4 linked regions of the Homo sapiens genome follow. The protein of the gene in region 1 interacts with the protein of each later gene in a biochemical or structural test. Each region holds a gene or a part of one and is shown in the gene's direction. Other genes may lie near its edges.

Region 1 (7,298 bases):
TGTAGTGTTAACCAATCATATGCAAATCTTGCTTATTTGGAATTTTGGAATAATTTTGAAAATATCGAGATGAAACTGAGTTACCCAACCAATGCCTCAACAAATTTTATTTAACAAGTAATGTTTATTGAACACCTGCTATATGCCAAGCCCTGTACTAGGTACCGAGAATCCAGTGGTGTGTGTGTCAGAACATTTTAAACCATAACTAATAGAAAACTTGATATGAATGACTTAAACAATAAACAAACTTATTATCTAACCAAACAAGAAATTCCAAGGTAGATCAGTTTCAGACTTGTAGAAAACGTTATTTTTATCTTTTAAGAGATGGAGTCTTGCTCAGTCACCTAGGCTGGAATGCAGTGGCGTGATCATCACTCACTGCAGCCTTTGAAGTCCTGAGCTCAAATGATCCTCCCACCTTAGCCTCCTGAGAAGCTGGGGCTACAGGCATGTGCCACCATGCCTGGCTAATTTTTAGTGTTTTTCTGTAGAGATGGGGTCTGGCTTCATTGCCCAGGCTGGTCTCTAACTCCTGACCTCAAGGGATCTTCCCACCTAAGTGTTGGGATTACAGATGTGAGCCATTGTGCCCAGCCAGATTTGCAGAAAACAGATAATGCAACACATCTCATCAGCATAACTAAGCATCTGAGCTCTTTGTAATTTTCCATTCTCTTTTCTTTCAGACAATGGCTTGTTCTTAGTTGTCTCCCCTCATGATTATAAGACAGCTGCCATATTCCAGACACATCTCACAATGCTGTCTAGTAGAGAAACAAGTGCTGTTTCTTCTCATGTGTTTTATTTTTTATCACTGGGGAAGAAATCTTTCCCAGAAATTCTTAGCAGACTTTCCCTCCTGAAGCGCATGGCTTCAGGAAACTGGAGGCTTGAACAGAACTGGGGTTCTACCAAAAGGAGGAAGGCGAATGGACAGTGGCTGAACAGACCGTCTACTAACAGCACCAAGTAATGATTAAATAGACTGCCCCTGCATTGAGGGACAGAAACAATGTCACAGATGACATACAGTTACAAACTGTAACAAATACATGATCAGAGAGAACCGTGCACATAGCAAGGTCATGGATCTAGAAAGGCCACTCATTGAGGAAGTGAAAGATGAGTAGGAACTAGCCAGGCAGGCTTGGGGGAAGAGTGTTACATGGGCGGAGGAAGAGGCTGGCTCATATGAAACCATGAAAGGAGGCCTGTGTAGCTGGAGTTCTTGGGAGAGGAGGAGGGGAAATGACCTGGAATGAGCACAGGGCAGCAGGCAGGGGGCTTCCTGCAGCATGGGAAGGAGTTCGGGTTATATCCTGAGAGCAGTGCAAAGCCATGGAAGGTTTAAAAACAGGGGCCATGAAGTGATCTGACTTGTGTTTTTAAAAGCTCAATCTGGATGGAGAGGCAAAGAAATGTTAAAAGACTATCATGTTCACCTGGGAGTTGATAGTGGCTTGGCCTGAGTGGTGACAGGAGAAGGGGAGGGAAAGTGGATGAAATGGAGCATGAATGGCTTTGCTAGTGCCCTGGGGGATACAAACATGGGTTAGCCCAGGACTTCCTCCTGAGGCACACTATTTGAGGTGCTAAGACTTGCATGCACATACATTGGTGAAGAGTGATTAAGGGCCACATGGGAGGTGCGGAGAAGGAGATGCAGGAGTTCAGAAGGCGAGATCATGGGTTTGAGCGCTTTCAGGCAGGACTGATTTCAGGGCAGTGTGTTAAGGAGAGTGCTATTTTAGCAGGCCTTCGAAGGCTATGCAAGGTGGGTTTGAAGGTGCAGACATGGGAGAGGGCAGCCTAGAAAGAGGAACTAGCACGAGTCGCACAGATGCAGGAATGAAGGCATAGCGGGAGAAGAGTAAGCAGCAGAGTTTGTATGGGATTGTGAAGGAAAGTTCTGGGGATAAGGCTAGAAAAGTCTTGGCAGTCAGATTAAGGAGAGTTCTGAGTGTCAGGGTGGGATAATAGGAGGGCAAAAACATTTTTTAAAAATGAAGTCTAATTTAGCTACAAATCCATTTGGTTTTCTCAGGAATAATTAATGTGCTATTCAAGTCCTGATTATTTATTCACTAGATGGAATAGCAATACCTCTTTCTGCCATCACTGCTACCTGCAGGTCATTTACCAATGATTTCTAATTTCTTTTAGAATGTATCCCTTCATCATGTATTGAGTATCTGTGCTAGAGATCCTAGAATGAAAAGGCATGGTCCCAACTTCCAAGGAGCCCATGAATTGAGCAGATAAAGAGATAAATTGCAGTAAGTATGATGCAAGTTTTTGGGTAAAGGTGGTACAAAGGAGAGGAAAATTCTCCTACTACCCAGAGTTCAGGGCTAGATTTAGCACAGTTGGTGACATTTAAACTGGGCTTTGAAAGATGAGTAGGAGTTTGCCAGGCAAAGAAGAGAGCTGGGAAGGCCTTGTAAACACAGGAAAACAATCTGGACAAAGACACACATGTCTTCTTAATTCTCACACCTTCAATCCTACAAGCACTGTGGAGTATACATTTTTAAGTTTTATTTTCAGGCTTTTAGGGGAAGCTTGGTGATAATGAGTGAATTCTTTCAGTTGCTACAAAACAAGAGTTTGCATCTAAGTATTTGACCCCCATAAACATGCATTTTACCTAAAAAGAAGCCTGGATTTTAGCAAGCCAAATTGGCTATACCCTTTACCCCCAGTTATTCCTCTGGGAGGTTTTACTGATTTTTACTTTTCTGGAAAAGCAAGGAAAGAACTCTTAAATCTGTTTTTTCAGAGACTAGTAAATCCATTAGTCATCAGTGCAGGACTTTCATCTCTTCAATTTTTCACTGGAAGATGGGAGAAGTCATAATTCACTGTCATGTGGCTCCCAATTTTGACATTTGCAGGAAATTGGTCCCCTCTGAACTTCATGAATGTTCATAAAAGTTATTTCGGCTGGGCACGGTGGCTCACTCCTGTAATCCCAGCACTTTGAGGGGAGGCCGAGGAGGCCGAATCACCTGAGGTCAGGAGTTCGAGACCATCAGCCTGGCCAACATGGTGAAACCCCATCTCTACTAAAAATACAAAAATTAGCAGGGCGTGGTGGCAGGCTTCTGTAATCCCAGCTACTCAGGAGGCTGAGGCAGGAGAATTGCTTGAACCCAGGAGGCAGAGGTTGCAATGAGCTGAGATCGTGTCACTGCATTCCAGCCTGGGCAACAAGAGTGAAACTCCGTCTCAAAAAAAAAAAAAAAAAAGTTATTTCAGGCCCAGATCAGATGGATCTCCAAAGATTATCCTGTCTCAAAAATTTGTTAATGATAATTTCAGCTCAAGATAAACACTAACATATTAATACAGCCTATGGGATTACAAAAAAGTGAGCAAGGAATTCATTCAAGACTGGAAAGAATTATCCTCTCATCTGACACTCCCATTTAACAAGGGTGTGGAAATCAAGGCCCAGTGACACAGGATTTTTTCTCCATCACTTTGTAAGCCAGGAACCTCTGGCTGGTGACACCCTGCCCAGGCCTCAGTGGGCCACACTACCTGCTGCAGGAGATGGCCTGCCCACTCGGCCTGGGTGGGGAGTTTTATTGAGTGATGAAAACAGCTTTCAGTGGAGAGGGGATGCAGGGGTGGTTCCCCTACCCAAAGGCAGGAAAGTCCCCCCAGTGCGGGTGAGTCTGGGGCTTTTATGGGCTCAGAATAGGGGAGGGGCAGGACATAGGTAGTACTGGAAAAGGCAACATTCAATTGGTTAAAAGGCATTAGTCAGAAATAATTAATTGGGAAAGAGCAGACAAACAGGAACAGAAGTTCTCACTCTAGGTCACGGGTTTCATTTGGGACCAGTAGCCTAGTCTTTCAGCCTTCAGGCTGTTTTTGGCTTGAAGGTGGGGTTTCACCAGGGACCTGCCCCTATCTGCCTAGGCATTTGGCTGCCTCCTGTCATTATCACCAGGGAGGTGCCTCTACCTGCCAAGGTTACCCTGGCTCTAGAAGCAGAACTTTGGCCAGAAGCTGCCACAGAACAGGGGTGGGAGAGAGAAGAGGAGCTGGGTGACAGAGCAGAAGCATTTTGGGGAACTGATCCTTCAGGCAGCAGCTGATGTACTTCCTCTCTCCTCCACACTCCACCCCTACTCGCCCTCTCTCTCTCTGCTTCTTTCCTTTTCTCTCTCATGGTAGGGTTATGAGTCAGTTGCCAAAAGGTGGGGACATTTCCTGATGCATTTGCAACACTGAGAAGTTATCTTAAGGGAGGCTGGGCCCCATTCTACTCATCTGGCCCAGAAAGTGAACACCTTGGGGGCCACTAAGGCAGCCCTGCTAGGGGAGACGCTCCAACCTGTCTTCTCTCTGTCTCCTGGCAGCTCTCTTGGCCTCCTAGTTTCTACCTAATCATGTCCCTGGTGGAGGCCATCAGCCTCTGGAATGAAGGGGTGCTGGCAGCGGACAAGAAGGACTGGAAGGGAGCCCTGGATGCCTTCAGTGCCGTCCAGGACCCCCACTCCCGGATTTGCTTCAACATTGGCTGCATGTACACTATCCTGAAGAACATGACTGAAGCAGAGAAGGTGAGTGGAGGTGCCTCTTTCCGGGCCTCCTCTGTGCATTTGTTATTATGATTCTCAACCCCATTGCATTTCGGAAACCTAACCTCTGGGGAGATTGAAAAGAACAAAAGTTGCCCAAGCTCCACCCCTAGACAGCCTGATTTAACTGGTCTGGGAGGGGCCCCAGGCAGCCAGTTTTAAAAGCTCTCCAGGTGGAGAGCAGGTGAGGGGCAGCCAGGGTTGCCTCTTTCTCCATCTTCTAAATTAAAATCATTCTACAAGTGTCTTTAACACCTTTGTGAAGGCTGTCCTAGTCGTACTTTCTTCTACACAGAACTCCTTCTGGGCACAGAATCTCTATCTATCCCAGCGCTTTACACCTGATTATTGATTCTAAGGCACCTCTTTTGGCTTTCCAAGACTTTCATGTGTGTCGACTTTGCCTGCTCAAGAGATTTAAGGGAGGCACTTACAAAAAATAGCTTTTATCCCAAGTGACAATTCTGATCAATTATAAAGGAGACTCTTTTAAAGATGCTGAGGCTGGCAAGAGGAAATTGTACTGTGATTGACTAGTGATGTCTGCTGGGGGCATGGTGTGGGATGTCTCGCATCTTTTTCGTTATGTTTTCTCACTCAAATACCATAGTATGGAGTTAAGCATTCTCGATAATTATTTTTTTGATTGGTTGTGGTAAGGTGGAAAGGGTATGGAGTTTGGAAGGAGAAGATCTAGGATCGAATCCTAGCCTCTGTCTCTCTCTGGACTTTTAGTCTTAAGCAAGCTATGTAGCCTATGTAGACATCTGGCTTTCAGCTTCCTGAGTTTCTAAATATCATGAAAATTAAGTGAGATGCCAAACTATTAATGTCTCGTGGAACTTCACACCACTGTATAAGAGTTAGTTATTATTTTTACCGATTACTGCCAGTCTTTGCAAGGTGTGGCAGTGGTTGACTCCCCAGGTCCCTTAAAGAATCAGTCCCTTCCACACTCCAACAGTAGGTAAACAAGCCTCAGCCACACCCTCCTGACAGGAAGACAGAGAAGTGACTGAAATGTTCTCACATAGCTTGACAAGTCAATCTCAGGCTCTAAGGCAGAGCATGGCAGGACCCCCCACCTCTGGCTGGAGGAAGGACATGGCCCCACCTCCTCTCAGGGGCCTGCTGAGGGGCTGAGTGAACAGCACCACACATTCTGAGGGCTGATGGACACAAAGTGCACATTGTCCAGGAGAAGAGATTGGCAGCTAGTCTGGGCACAGCTATGCCAGCAGGGACTGTAGCCTCCTGCCTTGGCCTGGATATGGGATCCTTGGCAAGGTTGTGTGGGCCACCACTCACTTCTCAGCTCCCAGGCCTTCAGGCCCACATGTCTCTGTTTCTCCTGGCATTCCTCTGCTTCTAGCCTTCTCATTCCTTCTGCCTTTCTTTGTTTTCCTGCTTGAGCCCTTCCTACTAGCATTTATATGCATTCTTATTCATTATCATTTTAATTGTATACTATTCATGTATAAGTTTGTATAGTAAACAAATATAACAATTTATATAATATTTTAATTATTTTCATTTGCAATAAATTTTATTATTTATTTAAACTGAATGTTCAATACATTCATAGGAATACAAGAAATGCAACAAGGGTTAAAATTTCATTATTACATTAGATATCATTTTTTCTTTCTTTTTTTTTTTTTTTGAGATGGAGTCTCACTCTGTCACCCAGGCTGGAGTGCAGTGGTGCAATCTCGGCTCACTGCAACCTCTGCCTCCTGGGTTCAAGTGATTCTCCTGCCTCAGCCTCCCAAGTAGCTGGGATTACAGGCATGCACCACCAAGCCCGTCTAATGATGTTTCATTTTTCAAAGAAGCTTCTCCTATTTCCCTATCTTTTTTATCTTCCACAGAGCAATAAATAGTAATTACTACTCTCCTGGACAAGGTGCTCTGTTGTGTTGGATAGGAATTGTATCTTTAAGTTTGACATCATTATCACCTCCAAAAACTCTACCTTCACTTCATAGCACAGTCTCGCTGCATTGTTTCACAGTAAAATTGTACTCTACTCAAACTAGGAGAACTCAAAGAAATTAGAGCAAACAGCAGTTAAATTCATATGAATGAAAGACAGAAGACCAAAGATTTTAAAGTACTGATTTAGTAACATAGTGTCTACTGGCTCAAAGCTTCTATCTAATCATATTAAATCATATTATTAAAACAGCGATAATAGAAATGAAAGCTACACTAATGAAAAAGGAACTTGGGAATGAGGTCATTAAATATAACTAACTATATTTTAAATATAGATATGTATTTTTTATTAGTATCAGGTAAATGTCTAAATTATCTATTCTGAATTCTAGTCTCAGAGAAGGTCAGAGACAGTTACAAAGAAGGCGCTTCATATTGTCAAGTCCATTTTTAAAATGATGAGCTCCTTTGGGAAAATGCTTTAGTGTTTCTTTTCTTCTAAGATTTCTGTTGGTGATAATCCATTAGTGTCTGCACCCTTATAGTCCACTTTGTCTTTATTTGTATCATTGGATTTTTTTTTTTTTTTTTTTTTTTTTTTTTTGAGACAGGGTGCCTTACTTTGTTGCCCAGGCTGGAGTGCAGTGGTGCCGTCACAGCTCACGGCAGTCTCCACCTCCTGGGCTTGAGCGATTGACCTACCTCAGTCCCCCAAGTAGCTGGGACCACAGGCATGTGCCACCACATCTGACTAATTTTTAA
Region 2 (7,029 bases), on another chromosome or scaffold:
GCCATTTCTTCCTCCCAGGATATCTCCAGGCCTCAGTTTTTTCAGCTGTGTAATGGGCACAATAGTAATGTGAGAATCACCTGAACTGTAAGGCACAAGAGATTAAAAAATGTCACTCTTCAGTCTGGGCACGGTGGCTCACACCTGTAATCCCAGCATTTTGGGAAGCCGAGGCAGGTGGATCACTTGGTCAGGAATTTGAGACCAGCCTGGCCAACATGGTGAAACCCTGTCTGTACCAAAACTACAAAAATTAGCTGGGTGTGGTGGCGCGCACCTGTAATCTCAGCTGCTCAGGAGGCTGAGGCACGAGAATCACTTGAGACCAGGAGGCAGAGGTTGCAGTGAGCCAAGATCGTGCCATTGCACTCCAGCCTGGGCGATAGAGTGAGACCCTGCCACATTAAAAAAAAAAAAAAGTCACTATTCATTTGGCATTCTCAACATGAGTCCAGCACAGGAGCTGGCACGCCACATCATTGGAACCTCAGAACCACCTGGGGAGAAGAGGCTAGTAGTTTCCCCATTAAAAAAACTGAGGCTCAGGGAAATTGCACCAGGACATAAAGTGGTGGTACTTTGTTGCACCCTAGGACTCCTAAACCTGCAAGGCAACCTCCCACAGACAGGAGGGTCAGGAACAGGTTTTTGCTGTGTTATTGGCTTCCTCACCAGGCTGGAAATGTGCTCAGGGCAGGGACACAGTGTTCCAGCCCCTACCATGGAGTGGACAAATAGTGGTGCCCAGGAAAAGTTGGGCCCAACACCACATTTCAAGGAAGGGAAAGCCACATCCAGAGAGACCCGAGGTTTTAGGTCCAGGAGAGACTGAACTGGGCCCGTCAGCCATGCTGGGACTGGTAGACGGGGAGAGCCTGTTTGGCGGTGCCTCCCGGCTCAGCTGTTTCCTCCTGTTCCTACAGGTCTGCAGGGAACTGGCCAGGCAAGGGGGCAGGCCCGTTTCTCCTGGTGGTTGGTGCGTTGTAGCAGCAGCGGGAGCCAGGACTAAGGACAAGCAGGAGCTGGGAGCCCCAGGTAGGACTGAGTTCTCTTAGGCAGATGGATGGTGCACCGGTGTAGCCTTCCTCTCTGGCCTCTTTGTCCTTTGCTGTGGAACTGGATGGGGTTGGGCATGCATGCAGAGTCCTTGATCTGGTTGTGGGCCCTGTGTGCCCAGGGGCCGCAGCTGTTTGCCCTGTCTATGAGGGGCTCTCTGCTCATGAGGAACTTCCTGCCTAACCTGGCTGTGGCCCCAGAATGCTCTCACCTTGGAGCTCAGAGGCCTGGGGCCTACCATTAATTTGGGGCAAAAAGTAGTAACGCTTTTTTGGTCAGTTAGAGAGGGTGGCTCATGGGCCAAAGATTGAGGGTGGGTGTGTCAGCTTTTCCATGGCCCTGTATCTGCCTCAAACTCACCTCATCATCACACAAGGACACTGAAATTCCCCGTGGGCCCCACAGTGGGTTGGACACTGCAGGGGGATGGAATGGGGTCTCCAGCTCCAGGTACAGCTGAGCTGTCTTCCACACCCCAGGCCCCTCCATTTTCCCCAGCTTCTCTGGAGCCCGAGCAGGGCTCAGTCCCTCTCTTCAGCTTCCAGATTCAAGGGGAGCTAGGCAGAGTCTGGAACAATGCTGGGAAGGCTGCAGTCTCTTTGAATCCCCTCAGAAAGCTAGAAATTCCTTGTTTTGGGGCGAGCCTTGCCTCCTTCAGCCCTATTACCATGAAAACATTGCTGTGGGTGACTCCATACTCATTCCAGGCTGGTGACTGGGTGACCGGGCCCCAGTGAACAGGGTACTGGTGGTGGGTATGGGTGCTAATGAAGCTGGAGCCTCGGAGTAACAGTGGGGGGATAGCAAAGACCGTCTTTCCTCCAGGAGTGCTCCCTGAGCAGACCCTCACAGCCAACCCTACTGGCTGTTACGCACCTATAGGTCTGTGAGTAGAGCCATAAAGGCTGGGCTTCCTGGGCCTGACTCTGGGTTGGGGGCAGAAGGGAGGTCAGGGCCTTCACTCTGGGGTAGGAGTTGGGACAGAACAGGAGCAGTCTTCACTGGGCCTTCTGTGTATTGGACCTGTCCCTAAACCTGGTGTGGAGGAAGTAAAGCGCCTTTGGCTGTCTAGGGGCCTCTGCCACCTAAGTTCTGAAGAGCCAGCCCTTTCCGTCACTCAGCCTTGTTTTGTAAGGAGTTTGATTAGTCTTGGAGACAGCCCACTGTAAACCCTCAGACATCACCCTCCAGCTGCACAGACATATGCGTGCTCACACAGGGATATGGCAAGCTAGGCTGCAGTGGGCATGCACACCCACAGACTCATGAGTTCCTGTACGTGCACCACACATGTGGGCATGCAGGTACACAGGTGCTCACATGCAGCCACCCATGGCACACTCACACACACACAGATGCTCTCCCAGTTACCGTTGGCATCCATGCACTCAAATGCCTGCCCACACATACCGCACTGTGCCCATTCTGGGGTCAGGAAGGGGTCCCTGGTCAGAGTTACAGCCCAGTCAGGTCGCCTGCATCTGGCACCTGAGGGGCAAGTTCCAGGTGTGGCTGTGATCTCAGTAAGGGGGGCTGGGCCACCCTGGTAGGTGGGCTCTGCCCATGCATTCAGCAGCCACCCTGCCCACCTGGCCCCAGGCTCCAGGCCGACCAGGGATTGGCATGGGAGATGGGAGGCATGAATGCGGGGGAGAGGCTGTGTCAGCTGTGCCAGCACTGTGTGCCTGCTGCTACAGCAGAGGAAGTAGGCTGTCTGGCCATGGGGCCAAGGTGCTCACAGTGGGTGGGGGTCCTATCAACTCCTGTGTCCCCCACGGTGTCCATGCCTAGAGGGAGTGGAGTTGCTGGGCTCTAGGGACTGAGAGGTTGGCAGGGGCTGTCTGTTCACTTCCCAAAGCCTGGGCCTAGGAGAGAGGCCCATCTGTTCAAGGCGTTTCCGGAGGCTTACTTCCTCTGAGCTGCCCAGGAAGTGGTTTTGGAGTGGGACTGACCAGCCCTCTGTCAGTGGCTCTACGCCTTGCTCCGCCCCTGCCTTGCCTGCCCAGGGGAGCAGCGTCTGGCCACCGGGTTAGGCTGACTGACCAGGCTTTTCACTGCCAGGGCTGCCCAGGCCTTTTTGGGGGGCTCTAGGAGAAGGGCAGGGGGCAGGTCACGAAGTCCCCTGCAGTCCCCACAACCGTGGCTCCTTTCTTGCTCTGAGCCTGTAAGCCGAGGCTCAAGAGCATCAACTCTGGTAGGCATGGCCCCCTTGAGAGAGGTGATGGCTGGGCTGCATCTTAGTGACTAGGCAGCTCCCAGCAGCTCTATGAATGAACCTGGGCAAGTGGCTCTGCCGCTCAGTGCCTCAGTCTCCCCCTGACAGATGAGATAATGATAGCATCCATCTTGATGAGGTTGTGCGGAAATGACAGATAACATATGCAAAGTAGCTGGCATCGTGCTTAGTGCATTGTCAGAGTTGAATGAGTAGAAACTGTAGTTATGTAAAGCATTTAGAGCCCAGTTCATGGGAACTATTCAAAAAATAGCAAGTGGGACTGATGAGGGGGTATTATTATCTGATGGGCTGGGCACTGGCCCAGTGTTACATGGCCAGGTGGCTGTGGAGCCTGGCTGAGGAGCCAGGTCTCTGACTCCCTCATCCCCCTCAATTCTACCTCCAGTGGCAGTGCCCTACTTGTTCAGTAGGTTCCATGCCCTCCGAGGAGAGGAGCTCCTGTTGGAGCAGCTCCACCCACTCAGCAGTCCAGCCCCTGCCTGCTCTTCTCCCCCTCACTCCCTTTCAAAGGGAGAAAATAGATCTCGTGACAAATGGATGCAGGGAGGGGAAAGGCAGTCTGCAGCTGCCTGCTGCCCCCTCAGGGCTCCCCTTGGCCCTCTCCAGCTCTGGCCTCCTGCAGGACATTAGGCTGGGAGAATTGGCTGGGAACGAGGGGGTGGACGTAAGCCCTCCTGCCAGCCTGCTTACCCTTCAGACCCCTGGAGTCAGCCTGTGGGCTGGGGCAGGGAGTGGGCATCTGGGACTGATGGAAGCTAGAAGAGTAGGGGGAGCTAGAAAACCCCCTACACCCATGGCAGCTGGGGGCAGGGCCCAGCCTGTCCCAGGGACACGAAGAAGGTCAGCACAGTTAGGGTTGGGCTAAGCATTGGCCTTCACTGTGTGGGGCCCAGAGGCTGGGGATGAGGAGTGTTGAGGAGTGGTAAGGACAGTGATGCAAACAGCAGGGGCCTGAGGGCTGGAGAGCGAAAGGTGGATGGGCCTGGGCGGGAAGTGTGGTTGAGGGTATCCTGAAGGCTTAGGAGCAGGACTTCTGCAGGCATCAGACAGACCCTGGTTGAATCCTTGCTCAATATTTACTGGCTGTGCACACTTGAGCCAGGGACTGGACCGTTCCCCACTTGCCTCGTCTGTGAAATGGGCAGATCACGGGGTGTGGTGTCCTGTGAGACATGAACGATGGGAAGGAGCCACTGTGTGGGGTGGGGTGGAGCAGGAAGACGGAACAGCAAGCCCAGAGGCTCCTAAGCGGGAAGGAACTGGCTGCTTCGGGAACTGAAAGGGGTCAGCGTGGCTGGGGCACAGGAATGAGGGAAAGGCAGCGCCTGCCCGAGAGGTCAGGGAGGTAACGGTGATGGGGAGGGGGGTGGCGGGGGGCAGGCTGCATGGAGCAGGCTGAGGGGAGGAGTCTGGGCTTGTCAGAGGGGCAATGGGAGGCACTGGGGGCTTGGGCAGGGGGTGACAAAATCTGTCTGAAAAGCCCCGTCTGGTGGCTGGAACAGGGGGACTGTCGGGCCGGGGTAGAGGATGGAGAGCAGTCAGAAGACAGGTGCAGAGCCTGGGGATGGTGGTGGTGGGAGAAGAGGATTTGAGACTTGAGGACAGGCTGCAGCGGCAGACGGGATGGCCTTATTGTGTGGGGAGCAGGGGGAGCTGTCTGGCCTGAGCCACTGCCTGAGCTCGTGCACTCCTAGTGGATGAGGAGCGCTGGGAGGGGAACGGCGGGGGACTGGTGTGGGCAGGCTTGAGCTCTTCTGGAGTCATTCATGTGGTGAAGCCAGGGAGGCAGGTGGGGCCACAAGCCTGAAGTTCAGGAGGGTCTGGGCCCAAAGTAGAGACGGGAGCCTAAAGCCAGGATTGGGGAGGAGAGGGCTCAACAGGCCTTCTAAGGGGTGGGGGAGCATTTGAGAGGCCCACGAACAGGACTGGGATGGCTGTCCCTCAAAGGTCTCTGCCAAGGCACCCAGGAGGGCAGGCTTGTGGTGGCTGAGCCGCTGTTTTCACAACAGCTCCGGAAGCTTTGGATCATGTCTATGGCCGTGTTGGGTAAACAGGCAGAGCAGAGCAGGCAGTCGCCAAGGCCTGAGGCTAGATCAGATGTCTGCGTGGTGTAGGTTGTGGGCTGGGGTTGTTGGGGTGGGAGGAGGATCCCAGGGTCCTCCAGTGTCAGGGCTGGAGAAAGCTTAGAGGTCTCCATTGTTGAGACAGGGAGGCTGGAGCCCCGGGAGGGGCAGTAGCTGGCCAGCCTCTGCCAGTGGACTCATGCTGCCTGCTTCAGCCCAGTTCTGCCCAGAGCCTCAGGCCAGAACAGGGCACCCTGCGGCTGGGGGGCTTAACAGAGCCTCTTTTCCCACTTTCCAAGGAAGTCTGGAAGACACCAGAGCACTTGGGCCAAGATCGCGGAGCACCCAGGCAGCAGATCTGAGCTAGGCCTGTCTAGGTCCAAGCTCGCCGGTTCCTCTGTCCGCTGCCTGCTGTGGGATGGCGCACCATGCGGGATGGTCCTGCCTCTCTCCCAGCTTTCTCAATATCCCCAAAGTGGGGAAGCATCATGTGGATCCTGCCCAGATCCTGGGGATGACTGGCAAAAGGGTTAGGTGGCCATCTTGCCTTCTCCCAAACACAAAACGATTGTTTCCAATGGTAAACCATCTGGAAAATCGTGGGAACTCTGTGGGAGAAAGAAGGGCTAAGGAGTAGGGCTCTTGTACTGGGGGCTGATGGAGGAGCTGTTCCCATCTCCAAACACATACCCTCACCCCATTGGAGGCCAGATGGGCAGTTCTAGGACTAGAGCTGGAAGTTCTCTCCCCACTTCCCCCTGGGTCTGCCCCATTGGCTTTGTGGCTTTGGTTGAATTGCTCAACCTCTCTTTCGGTTTCTGCACAGTGAGCCTGGAGCTCAAGGAACTTGCTCCTGGGGTGCCCGGCTTGCTGCCCTACCAACATAGGTTCAAGCCCTCCCCTCCCCCTGCGCGCCAGGCCTGTGACTGCCACCTGTGACCTTCAACCTCCACCATAGCCTCAGGGCCCTGCAGGCAGGTGGGCGGGCGGGCGGAGGCCTGCCCAGTGATGTGCCTGACCAGCCCACTCCTTCCCTTACACACTTTAGACTTTGCTCTGGATCAAGAGGGACTTTCTTCGTCTCCCTGGGTGGAAAGGCCCAGCCTAGCCTGACACCAGCTGCCCTTCTGCCCCTCCTCCATTCCCCAGCCATTGTGCCTGGGGGCTGTGGTGGAAAAAGCTGCATTTGGACTTCATGGTGCCAGACTCTAGTCAGGGATGTGGGGTCCTTCCAGGACTGTATGTTTGTTTCTGTGTCTGCCTGGAGCATCTCTGTGCCAGTGTGTACATCACAGCTTGTGGCACTCCACGTGCGTGTGGAGCCTATGTGGTCGGGTGTGGTCTGTGTGGGCCCGGGTATCTGTTGAGATGTGAGAGCCGGTGAGTGCATGTGTGTTTCTGTGTGTGTGTGTGTGTGTGTGTACGTGTGCCCCTGTGTCATCACAGCAGTGTGTGTACGTACCTGTGGCTCCAACTGTGTGCGTGTGTGTCTAATGTCGAGTGGGGCTCCCTATGTGCTGTTTGGGTTGGCGAGTGTGCCTGTGTGCACACGTGTGGTTATTCGTGGAGAGGCCCGGCTGCATCCCCCACCCTGGCTCCTCACAGAGGCCCCTTGTCCTCACAGGATCTGGCTCTCTGGCTCCTGCCATGAAGGGGCCTTTGTTCCTCTCT
Region 3 (6,861 bases), 3.2 Mb from region 1:
TGAATTCTGCTGGACAGGGAAAAGGGTAGGGAAATTTTCCAGACAAGATAGTACTTGAGCTAAGCCTTGCAGGTTGAGTAGGATTATTCTAGTGGAATTTAGGGAAACGATGTGCAAGGAGAATAGTCTCTTAGTTTGAATGAAAGGTAGAGGTCAATTAGTGGGATGCCAGAAAACTTGACAAGGTGAGAAAATCATTTTCTGTGACTTGCTATTTTACTAACCTGATTGATTTTGTTAATACCTAAAAAGAGAAATGATTCATGTTAATTATATTCACAGATACAAATAAGTAGCAAAAATATCAACTTATTATTTTACTATAAATACAGTTGGACCAGAAGACTCAAGCATAGCCTGTGGAATAGAAGGATACATTATTATAAGTAAATTAGTTGATTGGTAGCCATTTTCTGATTTTACCTGCAATCTGGATTAGATTCCCTATTCAACTCTCTCTTAGTACCCTATGCTGGCTAATCATCTTCATTTTCTATCCAGATTTAATTCTCATATACTACCTCATTACCCTGCTCAAGTTTATCAGAAACAAAGCAGTTTCATATAGTTAGAGCAGAAGATAGGTGAATTGGAAATAGTAAAAAAGATAACAGAAAACAACTCCACATAAAGAAAGAAAAATCATTCAAAAGAAGACATTTATGCAGCCAACAGACACATGAAAAAATGCTCATCATCACTGGTCATCAGAGAAATGCAAATCAAAACCACAATGAGATACCATCTCACACCAGTTAGAATGGCGATCATTAAAAAGTCAGGAAACAACAGATGCTGGAGAGGATGTGGAGAAATAGGAACATTTTTACAGTGTTGGTGGGAATGTAAACTAGTTCAACCATTGTGGAAGACAGTGTGGCAATTCCTCAAGGACCTAGAACTAGAAATACCATTTGATTCAGCCATCCCATTACTGGGTATATACCCAAAGGATTATAAATTGTGCTACTATAAAGGCACATGCACATGTATGTTTATTGTGGCACTATTCACAATAGCAAAAACTTGGAACCAACCCAAATGTCCATCAATGATAGACTGGATTAAGAAAATGTGACACATATACCCCACGGAATACTATGCAGCCATAAAAATGATGAGTTCATGTCCTTTGCAGGGACATGGATGAACCTGGAAACCATCATTCTGAACAAACTATCACAAGCACAGAAAACCAAACACCCCATGTTCTCACTCATAGGTGGTAATTGAACAATGAGAACACTTGGACACAGGGCGGGGAACATCACACACGGGGGCCTGTCGTGGGATGAGGGGCAGGGGGAGGGATAGCATCAGGAGAAATACCTAATGTAAATGACGAGTTAATGGGTGCAGTAAACCAGCATGGCACATGTATACCTATGTAACAAACCTGCACGTTGTGCACATGTACCCTAGAACTTAAAGTAAAATTAAAAAAAAGAAAGAAAGAAAAATCAATCATACAAACATCAGGGTTCCCCCTCCCAACCCCCTGGGGTTTTTGAGCCATGGCTTTTGACAAGTAGGTGTTCTTTGTTAGTTAATTTGGCCAGTTTTGGGGTTGTTCCTTTTGATTACTTATCTAGTTCTTAGCTTATTATTCTCTTTCTAAAATTTTAAAGATGTGGAAAATTACTAGCAAACTGCATGAAACTTATTAGCTGGAAATAGTGCAAATGGTAGAATTGGATTCAAAGAAGCTGCTATGATATTTCTCAGTTTCAGATGGGTCCCAGATGACTAATCTTTGTTGATGGACAAACCAAGTGGAGAGGGGTCTTCAGACATAATTGATCCTATAGACTGAAGCACGCTATGGAAGTCAGGGCCTATCTTACCTAAGGTGGAAGCAGAGGTTTTTGAAGTCAGTAGGTCAATGCTGAAAATATTTTTGGAGGAAATTGGGCAAAGTGAAGACGGCAAATCTGAACTTGTACTATCCACCTAGGGGTCTATGTGAACAGTGAGATCACAAGTAGTGAGCCAAAATAGATGAGATAAGGAGGCCATAGAACCACAAAATGGGTAAATGGGATTTGGTCTGCACTGATTCCAGAGAGGAAAAGACATACCTGCAGCAGCCTTTATTCATTATAAAGGTGGAGATAAATCAGCTTCATTTAGTAAGGCGGGAAAGAGACAAACTTCTCCCCGTATATATTAACCCTAACCATGACATATAATGACATTTTCTTTAAAAGCGTTTAAATAAATTTTTTATCTTTAATGCATGACACACTATTGGATATCATCTGGAAATATTGAGAGCTATAACTTTTTGTTATCAAAAAAGCACTAGAGCACTTTTTTTGTGCTCTATAAGCAAGCACTGTGAAGCTGCTTTTCCAGGGAGTCTTTTTTATCAGAGTCTTAGAACGAACATGCCCTGCAGTATAGATTCTTTCTTTCACCAGTTGTGTCTGGGGGAAAGAGATGAAAACTACCAGTGTGCTCTCTGCTCCTCTAATTAACATACACCTCCTTTCTAGAAATTCAGGGATTTCTTTGGAAAGAGAAATTTTTTTTTTTTTTTTTTTTTTTTTTTTTTTTTTTTTTTTTTTTTTTTTTTGAGACGGAGTCTCGCTCTGTGGCCCAGGCGGGAGTGCAATGGCGCAATCTTGGCTCACTGCAAGCTCTGCCTCCCGGGTTCACGCCATTCTCCTGCCTCAGCCTCCCAAGTAGCTGGGACTACAGGCGCCCGCCACCACACCCGGCTAATTTTTTGTATTTTTAGTAGAGACGGGGGTTTCACCGTGTTAGCCAGGATAGTCTCGATCTCCTGACCTCGTGATCCGCCCGCCTTGGCCTCCCAAAGTGCTGGGATTACAGGCGTGAGCCACCGTGCCCAGCCCGAAAAATGTTTATTATAAATCTATCCTTCCTAAAAAAGACATTACTGGCTTTTTTTTTTTTCAAAGAGAGATTTATAATATGCCAGGTTGAATTTAGGGGAAAAAAATAAAAACAAATAAGAGTTGAATGTTGGGCTACAGAAAGCAGATATTCCAGAAGATTTAGTGAAATTATATTCTTTGAAAATATTGTAAGAGAGTTAGGAGAGTGAGTTCAGTATTTAATTAAAGGCAAAAACAAGATCCTGTGTTTGAAAAACAAGATATACTAAATGAACATGTCAATCTTTAAAGACATGAATTGATTCTCATGGAATTTGGGTACATTTAAACAATGCACCTTCTTCATTACAGTGCTATAAGGTATTTGGATTTACACTGCAAATTTGGAATTCAACCTGATTTCATTTTCTTCCCTAAATCTCAACATATATATTACATTATTTGGTATGCCTTTAATCTTAAATTTACAAAGAAATTATTATCAACACAGGTGTTCTGAGTCTGGAGTGGAAATATTTAAACAGATTTGATTTTTAAAGTGGTCTGATACTCATTTTTTAAAAATGTACATTTTTATATTTGGGGTTTGTTATAAACTTTGCCTTTTTAAATAATGCAAAAATGCTCTAGGTTATTCACTGTCTTTTCAATTTTGTTCTCCTTTGGAAAAAAGGAGGAAGTAGTTACTACTTAAGGACAAGTAGCAATTTCAGACGCGCGCACGCACACACACACACACACACACACACATCACACACACAGAAATCCACAACAGCACTCATGGAATTTAGGACTGATTAATTTACATATTATTTAAGCATATTTTCTGACTTCAAACTCCTGGTTCTAATAACTAAGCATTTACATTTACAATATTAGCTTCTATGAGAAGAGAGCGTTCTCCCTCTTCCCCTTTAATTCCACCTTAAAACATCTGCAAAAGCGCAAGGAGACCAGCCCACATTTTAGCCCCTCCTACTCAGGATAAGACTTTCTCTAAGTCCGGAGCTGAAAAAGGATCCTGACTGAAAGCTAGAGGCATTGAGGAGCCTGAAGATTCTCAGGTAACTCTGGGAACTGTAAGCAATATATTTATTCTTCCTCTGCTCCACTTCTCTCTCCCACCCTCCTTAGCTTTTACTTGGTAGTTTACTTGGAAGGAAGAAAGGACGGAGGGGAAACCTCGCTGCTTTAAAAAGTCAGCATGTCCTCTGCCTTTTGAAGTGAAACACAGATTAGGGACCTCAATTTTCTTCAAACCCACGCAGATTTGCCTTCCTGGATCTAAATGCACTGTGGAGTCAAAGATTAAGGTGTTTCTTTGGGTTGGAATCCCAGAAAGTTAGCATTCAAAACGGCGGTGAGGTGGCGCTTATTAGCGTTCCACGTGATGACACCCAATGGTTACTGATCCCCAAACTTGAGCAGCAGCATGCTGTGCTGTTTGACAGCCCTAGCGATCTTTAGCGAGAGACTTTGTTGACTCACTTAACTTTTAATTTCTAAAAATTGGTCATTTTTGTTACTTATGGGACGCTTTCCTGGCTAGTCAATATTTTGCAGAATTATGCGAAAGAAAGAGGATTATTGAAAAATTAACTGTAAACGGACTGGTGTTCTGATGATCCACCCTTCCCCTAAGTTACTTGGCTTGCCAAGAGAAAAAAAAAATCTCAAAACTAGATACTAGAAAAGATTTGATCAAATTACATAGTTAAATTTTGAGTGTGGATATTTCAGTAATTTTGTTTCCAAAAAAAACAGAAAAAAAAGGTATTTGATTTTAAAGTATCAGTGGATGAATGTATCTGTCTCCTACAATTTATAATCATTTTAGTCTTAAAAATAAATTCACCTCCAAAACCAGAACAAGAAATACTCCTCATATGGGTTGATGATGTCAGCATTTATTCAGCTAAGGCAGATGGAGAGTATTAGAGGCGTACTGTCTGAATGGGTGTCAATTCTAAAGTTATATTTGCCAATATAATTTGAGTTCAAAGAAGATTTGTATTTTTGTTTCTCTTTGTTGTTTAAATTTAGAATTGTGGCTCAAGGGATATTTGTAGAGGACTGTAGTGAAACAAGCTCTGTTAAGAATTTTAAAGTTACATTCTACAGGTTCCTACACCTTGCCAATCAAGTTAGAGGTTGGGATAAGAAACAGGTATTTACTTCTTTCATTAGCTCCGGAAGAGTTAAATTTTAAATTAAGCAATAATTGTGAAATGCATAGAGAAGTGTTTAATGTGCATTTGCTCAAAGGAGTTTTACAAACTTCCCTTAGGGGAAGCATATTTTTTGAGATAAGACATTGCATCTTTTTAACATATTTTTAAAAAGTAAGTTATTCTGGCTGGGCGCAGTGGCTCATGCCCGTAATACCAGCACTTTGGGAGGCCGAGGCGGGTGGATCACTTGAGGGCAGGAGTTCGAGACCAGCCTGGCCAACGTGGTGAAACCCCATCTCTACTAAAAATAGAAAAACTAGCCGGACGTGGTGGCAGGTGCCTGTAATCCCAGCTACTTGGGAGGCTGAGGCATGAGAATCGCTTGAACCCAGGAGGTGGAGGTTGCAGTGAGCCAAGATCGCGCCATTGCACTCCTGCCTGAGCGAAAACAGCGAAGCTCTGTCTCAAAAAAAAAAAAAAAAAAAAAAAAGTAAGTTATTCTGAAGTGTTTTGCATTTTTGCATTTACATTTAATTAGGAAAAGAAAAATTATTAAATAGATTTTTAGCAACTGAAAATGTTCATTCCATAGAGGTTATTTGGCTTATGTTTTTAACCCATTATCTTTTCTAGTGCTGGTACTTAGAAAGCAGTCATAAAATCGAATCATCTACATATTAAAATTATGTTCCAGGAATAAAAAAGAGGAAGACAGAATTAGTTGTGGTTCCCATTCATCTTGTTTGCTTTTATTTACCATCAGTTTTTTCCTCCTTCTTGCTCCAGATTGTATAGCTTGCTTGCTTGCTTGCTTGCTTTCTTTCTTTCTTTCTTTCTTTCTTTCTTTCTTTCTTTCTTTCTTTCTTTCTTTCTTTCTTTTTCTTTCTTTCTTACTTTTTCTTTCTTTTCTTTTTCTTTCTTTTGTTTTTGTTCCATCAAAGACACTTTTATAATCTTGTGACAGGTATGGACCCCTCCCTAGAATAATGCACATTATGCCATTCCAACACACACAAATTTAAAAACACCTTTAAGAAGTTCACAAATCCCCAAAGACAATTCATATTACATGAAAATGCAGTATTTCTTAAAACTTTGGAGTTTTCTGATAATATAAAATGATTAATTATAAAATCATTTTACTTATAAGTAAGGAACTAACAGTGGATATTGTAGCACCCACATAGTCATTTATTCATTGGTATTCTAGAACTCCAAGCAACTTGGTATAATGGAAAAAACTGCTTGCCTGAAACCAGGTGACCTAGGTTCTAGACTCAACCCCAATAATAATTAACTGTACAATATTACGCTTGACATTTTTCTGTAACATCTGTTGCTTTTATTGCCGAATGCAGTAAGTGAAACATAATAAGAAAATCAGATGCAAGTTATTTTTTATTGGATTGTGGGGTGTCTATATTTACTACTTTTATTCCAAAATTCCTAATGACATTTCCCAGAATGATTAGTTTTTATAACACTATTGTTTATTATAAAGATAAATCACACTCACTGCTTAAAATTTCATTAAATATAGAAAATTGCAAGGAAGAAAAAGAAAATATTACCTATTATTTCCCCCAAGGTACTTTTAAAATGTAATTCAATCATTAATTCAATCAACAAATATCTATTGAGTACCCAGTATGCATCAGCAAAGAGACAGACAAGAAGTTCATGTATATACATGTTTATATGTCTAGATATGTTTCTATACATACATGTAGTTTTACAAAATTGTGATCACACTGTTCATGCTGTTTTGTAACATGCTTCTCCCTCATTCATGAGATGCATTGTTAAAACATGTTTTTTTTAATAATCAT
Region 4 (5,764 bases), about 30 Mb from region 1:
AAGGGAAGAGCAATGAGTAGAACCTGGGTGACAGTCAACCCAGGAAGGCTTCCTGAGGGAGAGAAGGGTTGGGTCTGTTTTTTTCTACAACATGATGATGGATGTGAGGGTTACTCCTGACCCAGGGCTATTCATGAACCACTGATCTGAGTCCTCCGGTATCCCTGACCCCACCCACCTGAGACCTGTCCCTGCCCTTGCTCTGTTTCTTTTTCCTTTTCCTCTCCCCTGGGACTCTAGGGATCTAATGCAGAATCCCTTAGGGAGGGTCTCCTCTGCCTTCAGGAAATGCCAGAGCCCACTTTAGAGGGTTGTCTTTTCTGAGGGTTGGTCTGGGAACCGGTGTCCTGAGCTTACTGAGATAGAAATCATGGATTTTGAAAGAGTGTTGGGGGGTGATATACCACCTGCGCACAGGACTGCAGGGTCACTTAAGAAACTTGGTCTGGTTCCCTCCCCACCTGGTCCTTTGCGCCAAACATGGTGGATTGTCCCTGGAGCTGAGCTGGAGACCTTGTTTCTCATCAGTCAGGCTCTGGGGCAGAATTTGCCCCTGCTGCTCCGGGCCTGGCCTGCTGTCCCTCCCACACTTGCCATCAGCTTAGTTTGCCTTTCAGGACCTAGCTGGGCCCTCCATTCCTTGGGAGATGTCTGCACCCCATTCCCCTTTGCATTCTTTCCTGTGGAAGGGCATCTTCTGCCACACTGTGCTTGTTTTGTACTCTCCGCCGAGACAGGACCTCAGTGTCCCCATAAACGCTCAGCAGGTGTTTGGGGAAGGAATGCAGAATTGGGGCCTGTGGGGCTGGAATTGATGACCTAGATCTGTGCTCCTTCCTGCAGGCCCCTGGCTGTGTCTAGAGGCATGAAGACCATCGCCTGAGTTACTTTGGCCACTCTTCTTGCAGGCCCAGGGGAGAAATACCTGTCTCACCTGAGAAGTGCTGGGCTCCACAGGCATTGAGTACGAAGCAGGGGCACCCAGCCTGAGCCCTCCCTGCCCTCTCCTGCCCCCTTCTGGGGGTTTCTTCACCAGCTCTGCCTGCTCTGTCCTCATTTCCTTGGCCTCAGGGATGGACCTGTCAGGTCTGTTGGGACACACCCAGGGACTGAGCCCTTTCCTGTAAACATGACCAGGTTCCGCTCCCTCTAGGTTGCCCCATGTCCGCTAGGCTGCTTACAGCCTCTGCCTTTCCCCAGATGTGCTTACCCAAGTCCTGATACCTTTTGCTGCAAGGTCAGTTCAGCCTGGCTCCTGCTGTCCCCAAAGCACCCAAGGCTGTCCAGGGGCGCAGTTTCTGGGGAGGGGGCGACATTTCACGATCTTGCTGGTCAGCCTGTACATGATGTGGGAAGGAGGTCACCACTCAGGACTCCCTCACTGGACCAGGGGAAGGACCTGAAGTAATGCCCTGTGCCTCAGTTTCCCCATCTGTCAAATAGGGATAATTATACTTGTAATGTCCACATCACTAGGTTGCTGGGAATATCAAATGAGTCAGTGGATGCAAAATACTTTGAAAATATGATATGGTGCTTTGAGGCAGGTGCTGTTATGCTGGTCACATAGGATAGTACGTGGTGAATAATAGGTATTAACCAAGGGTGGATCCTTGGTTGAAAACTTGTCATGTCAGAAATGGCGTTGTTTTCCTAGATGGAGCTTGATTCATCTTTTGTCAAGGAAGTCAGACTGCATTTGTTTGATGAATTTATACCCTGCCTTCTTCCAGAAATGATTTAAGATGGCTGATTGTGATAAAGAGAATTTCTGCCTTGGATAAGGGAAGGGTCAAACTTAATTTTGTATTCATTTATCCCTCAATAAGTATTAATTGAACATGTAGTAGCTGCCAGGCCCTAGGGTTGTGAAAAGAAATGTGATTTCTTTTCTAAATGGTCTCCTGGTCCCAAAGAAAAGACAGACAATAAACAAGTGAATCATAACATAGCAGGGCAAATGCTGTGATGGGTAAGGATTTGGGTAGCATGGAGGAGAGAAGAACTAATTCTGCCTTGATGGGGTGAGGGCAGGTGGATCAGGGATGGACTTGGAGCAGATGATGCCTGAGCTGGATCAGGAATGGTGAGGAGGACATTACAGGGACAAAAGGCATTACAGGCAGGAATAGGAAGTGGATGCTGTCACATCACATCATGAGTCACTCAATCATTTGATACGCTGAATTACTATGTCTCTCTGTGGGGCTTAGTTTCCTCATCTGTACAATGGGCATTATAATAGTACATACGTCATTGGATTAGTGTGAGAATTAAATGATCAATGCAAATAAAGCAGCACTTAGAATAGTTCCCGGACATGGGAAAAGCTCAGTGAGTGTGAACTAGTATTTTGTCATGATTTGCTCTGATCAGTGATTGTGGCTGCTGTTATTGTGTGTGCTGGGCACTGTGCTGGGTCCCCAATGGCTCACATCCAGAGAGAGCTGGATTTATTTTGGAGGGTGAAAGACTCCCTGCTATGTTTATGCAATGGCTCATGCCCTTGTGCAATGCAGAGGGACCCCAAGCAGCCTCCATCTCCCAGGGCACGGTGGATCCCCAGCTTCACAGAACAGGAGAGCTGTGGAGGAGTGTGGGCAGCAGGGTAGGAATGGATTTAGCCCTCGGCAACAACACATGTCCCCACAAAACATTTTCTTCATCCATTCATGTGTTGAGGGACACTTGGGTTGCTTCCACCTTTTGGCTCTTGTAAATAATGCTGCTATGAACATGAATGTACAAACATCTGTTTGAATCCCTGCATTCAATTCTTTTGCATATATACCCAGGAGCAGAATGATGGATCATATGGTAATTCTGTGTTTATTTATTTGAGGAACAAACTTGCCGTTTTCCATAACAGCTGCACTATTTTACATTCCCACTAACAGTGCATTAGGCTTCCAATTCTCTATGCCCTCACCAACACTTGTTTTCTGGGTTTTAAAAGAAGTAGTAGTCATCCTTGTAGGTGTCAGGTGGTATCTCATTGTCGTTTTGCTTCATGTTTTCCTAAAGATTAGTAATTTTCATATGCTTATTGACCATTTGTATATCTTCTTCGGAGAAGTGTCTATTTGAGTCTTTTCCCCAATTTTTGATTGGTTTGTTTGTTTTTTGTTGTTGAGTTGTAGGGATTCTTTTATATTCTGGATATTAATCCCTTATCAGATATTTGTTTTACAAATATTTTCTTTGTAACAACAGAAACACACCACAGTCTTCAAGGTTGGAAGCCAGTTAATCTGAGTAGCATTTTGTTAGTGGTGGGGAGAGGATTTGTTCCTCCTGAAATCCTGGGGAATTGGCCACCTCCTCTTCTCCTCTTAGGCATGAAGCGCGTCTGGCTTCTCCAAAGAACTCTTCCCCTCCACTACCTCAGAGTTAGCTTCCTCTCTTCAGCCAGTGATCCTGGGGTCCCAGACACAATAATTAACCAAGAGAGGGTGAAAGGCTCCCTGCTGTGTTTATGCAATGGCTCAGGCCCTTGTGAAGTGCCGAGGGACCCCAAGCAGCCTCCATCTCCCAGGGCATGGTCCATCCCCAGCTTCACAGAACAGGAAAGCTGTGGAGGAGTGTGGGCAGCAGGGTAGGAATGGATATAGCCCTTGGCAACAACACATTTCCCCACAAAGCACCCACCCAAAAGAACAACAACGATAGTTTTAGTTTTTAGTAATGAGAACAATAGTTCTCATGACTAAAAGCCATCAGCCAGGACACGTGTTCTCAACCCTTTTGCGGTCTTTGGACCCTTTGAAACTCTGACAGAAGCCATGGAGGAATGTTCTCACTGAGTGCATGCACTCAAAATGATGCATTCAACTTCAATTCAGTTTCAGGGATGTATGGCCTGACCACCAATGCAGGGGATTAGCAATCGCAATAGTGGAGAGGGCATGGGAGTGGGAATCTGGCTGGATCAAGCAAGTGGATGCCAGCAGCCCAGAAAAAGAGCCCCCCTACCTGCTTTTTCCTTCTGGGCACTATTGCCCAGCAAATGCCTTCCTCTTTCCGCTTCTCCTACCTCCCCACCCAAAATTTTCATTCTGCACAGTGATTGCCACATTCACCTGGTTGAGAAACCAGAGACTGTAGCAACTCTGGCAGGGAGAAGCTGTCTCTGATGGCCTGAAGCTGTGGGCAGCTGGCCAAGCCTAACCGCTATAAAAAGGAGCTGCCTCTCAGCCCTGCATGTCTCTTGTCAGCTGTCTTTCAGAAGACCTGGTAAGTGGGACTGTCTGGGTTGGCCCCGCACTTTGGGCTTCTCTTGGGGAGGGTCAGGGAAGTGGAGCAGCCTTCCTGAGAGAGGAGAGAGAAAGCTCAGGGAGGTCTGGAGCAAAGATACTCCTGGAGGTGGGGAGTGAGGCAGGGATAAGGAAGGAGAGTATCCTCCAGCACCTTCCAGTGGGTAAGGGCACATTGTCTCCTAGGCTGGACTTTTCTTGAGCAGAGGGTGGGGTGGTAAGGAAAGTCTACGGGCCCCGTGTGTGTGCACATGTCTCTGTGTGAATGGACCCTTCCCCTTCCCACACGTGTATCCCTATCATCCCACCCTTCCCACCAGAGCCATAGCCATCTGCTGGTTTGGTTATTTGGAGAGTGCAGGCCAGGACAAGGCCATCGCTTGGGGCATGAATCCTCTGCGTACTGCCCTGGCCAGATGCAAATTCCCTGCCATGGGATTCCCCAGAAGGTTCTGTTTTTCAGGTGGGGCAAGTCCGTGGGCATCATGTTGACCGAGCTGGAGAAAGCCTTGAACTCTATCATCGACGTCTACCACAAGTACTCCCTGATAAAGGGGAATTTCCATGCCGTCTACAGGGATGACCTGAAGAAATTGCTAGAGACCGAGTGTCCTCAGTATATCAGGGTGAGGAGGGGCTGGGTGTGGCGGGGGCTCTCTGCCTGGTCCTGGGGCTGCCCTGGGCCAGCGGTCCTCCCTGCCACCCTTCATAGATGGCTATGCCTCGGCTCTCTCTGAGATCTTTAAACTCTGGCTTCTTCCTCCTCAATCTTGACAGAAAAAGGGTGCAGACGTCTGGTTCAAAGAGTTGGATATCAACACTGATGGTGCAGTTAACTTCCAGGAGTTCCTCATTCTGGTGATAAAGATGGGCGTGGCAGCCCACAAAAAAAGCCATGAAGAAAGCCACAAAGAGTAGCTGAGTTACTGGGCCCAGAGGCTGGGCCCCTGGACATGTACCTGCAGAATAATAAAGTCATCAATACCTCATGCCTCTCTCTTATGCTTTTGTGGAATGAGGTTCCTCGGTGTGGAGGGAGGGTTGGAAAACCCAAAGGAAGAAAAAGAAATCTATGTTATCCCACCCTACCTCTCACAAGCCTTTCCTGCTTTACCCCTCACCTGGCCTCTGCCCCACATTCCCTTCCAGCCCCTCCATCTTGAGCCATTGGATTTGAGGCTTAAGGATTCCAAAAAGTCCATGACACTATAGCTGATGATTTTACTAGTGGTTCTGAAATGGGTCGGGGATTTGGGAACAGGGTGGTAGTATAAGAACAACTGATACTGTTCTCTAAGCTAAATTTTAGCTTCCAGCTAAATGTCTTAGATGTGGCTCTTGGGAAATTAGAGTGATAGCTACATAGAAGTGTGTGGGTGTGTGTGTGTGTGTCTGTGTGTGTGTGTGTGAGAGAGAGACAGACAGAAAGAGAGCAAGAGAGGGAAGGGGGGAGAGGCTGATTGTGTGTGTGGTGTGATGTAGGTGGACAATGTTCAGAGTCCTCCATTAAC

What was found.
Region 2: of the proteins of NCF2 (region 1) and PRKCD, one has a biochemical effect on the other in vitro, tested with the Homo sapiens proteins (one study listed by IntAct).
Region 3: the proteins of NCF2 (region 1) and PLA2G4A form a complex in vitro, tested with the Homo sapiens proteins (one study listed by BioGRID).
Region 4: the proteins of NCF2 (region 1) and S100A8 form a complex in vitro, tested with the Homo sapiens proteins (one study listed by BioGRID).

Annotation. Positions count from the first base shown.
Region 1 is NC_000001.11:183,587,438-183,594,735, reverse strand, and holds the start of NCF2 (neutrophil cytosol factor 2), read left to right. Parts: upstream 1-4,276; 5' UTR 4,277-4,406; coding exon 4,407-4,580; intron 4,581-7,298. UniProt on the Homo sapiens protein: Subunit of the phagocyte NADPH oxidase complex that mediates the transfer of electrons from cytosolic NADPH to O2 to produce the superoxide anion (O2(-)).
Region 2 is NC_000003.12:53,164,181-53,171,209, forward strand, and holds part of PRKCD (protein kinase C delta type), read left to right. Parts: exon of another isoform or gene 1-923; 5' UTR 924-1,035; intron 1,036-4,522; exon of another isoform or gene 4,523-4,602; coding exon of another isoform or gene 4,603-4,640; intron 4,641-7,029.
Region 3 is NC_000001.11:186,825,111-186,831,971, forward strand, and holds the start of PLA2G4A (cytosolic phospholipase A2), read left to right. Parts: upstream 1-3,838; 5' UTR 3,839-3,925; exon of another isoform or gene 3,926-3,940; intron 3,941-6,861. UniProt on the Homo sapiens protein: Has primarily calcium-dependent phospholipase and lysophospholipase activities, with a major role in membrane lipid remodeling and biosynthesis of lipid mediators of the inflammatory response.
Region 4 is NC_000001.11:153,389,510-153,395,273, reverse strand, and holds S100A8 (protein S100-A8), read left to right. Parts: upstream 1-4,233; intron 4,234-4,297; exon of another isoform or gene 4,298-4,417; intron 4,418-4,699; coding exon of another isoform or gene 4,700-4,738; coding exon 4,739-4,879; intron 4,880-5,030; coding exon 5,031-5,171; 3' UTR 5,172-5,242; downstream 5,243-5,764. UniProt on the Homo sapiens protein: S100A8 is a calcium- and zinc-binding protein which plays a prominent role in the regulation of inflammatory processes and immune response. It can induce neutrophil chemotaxis and adhesion.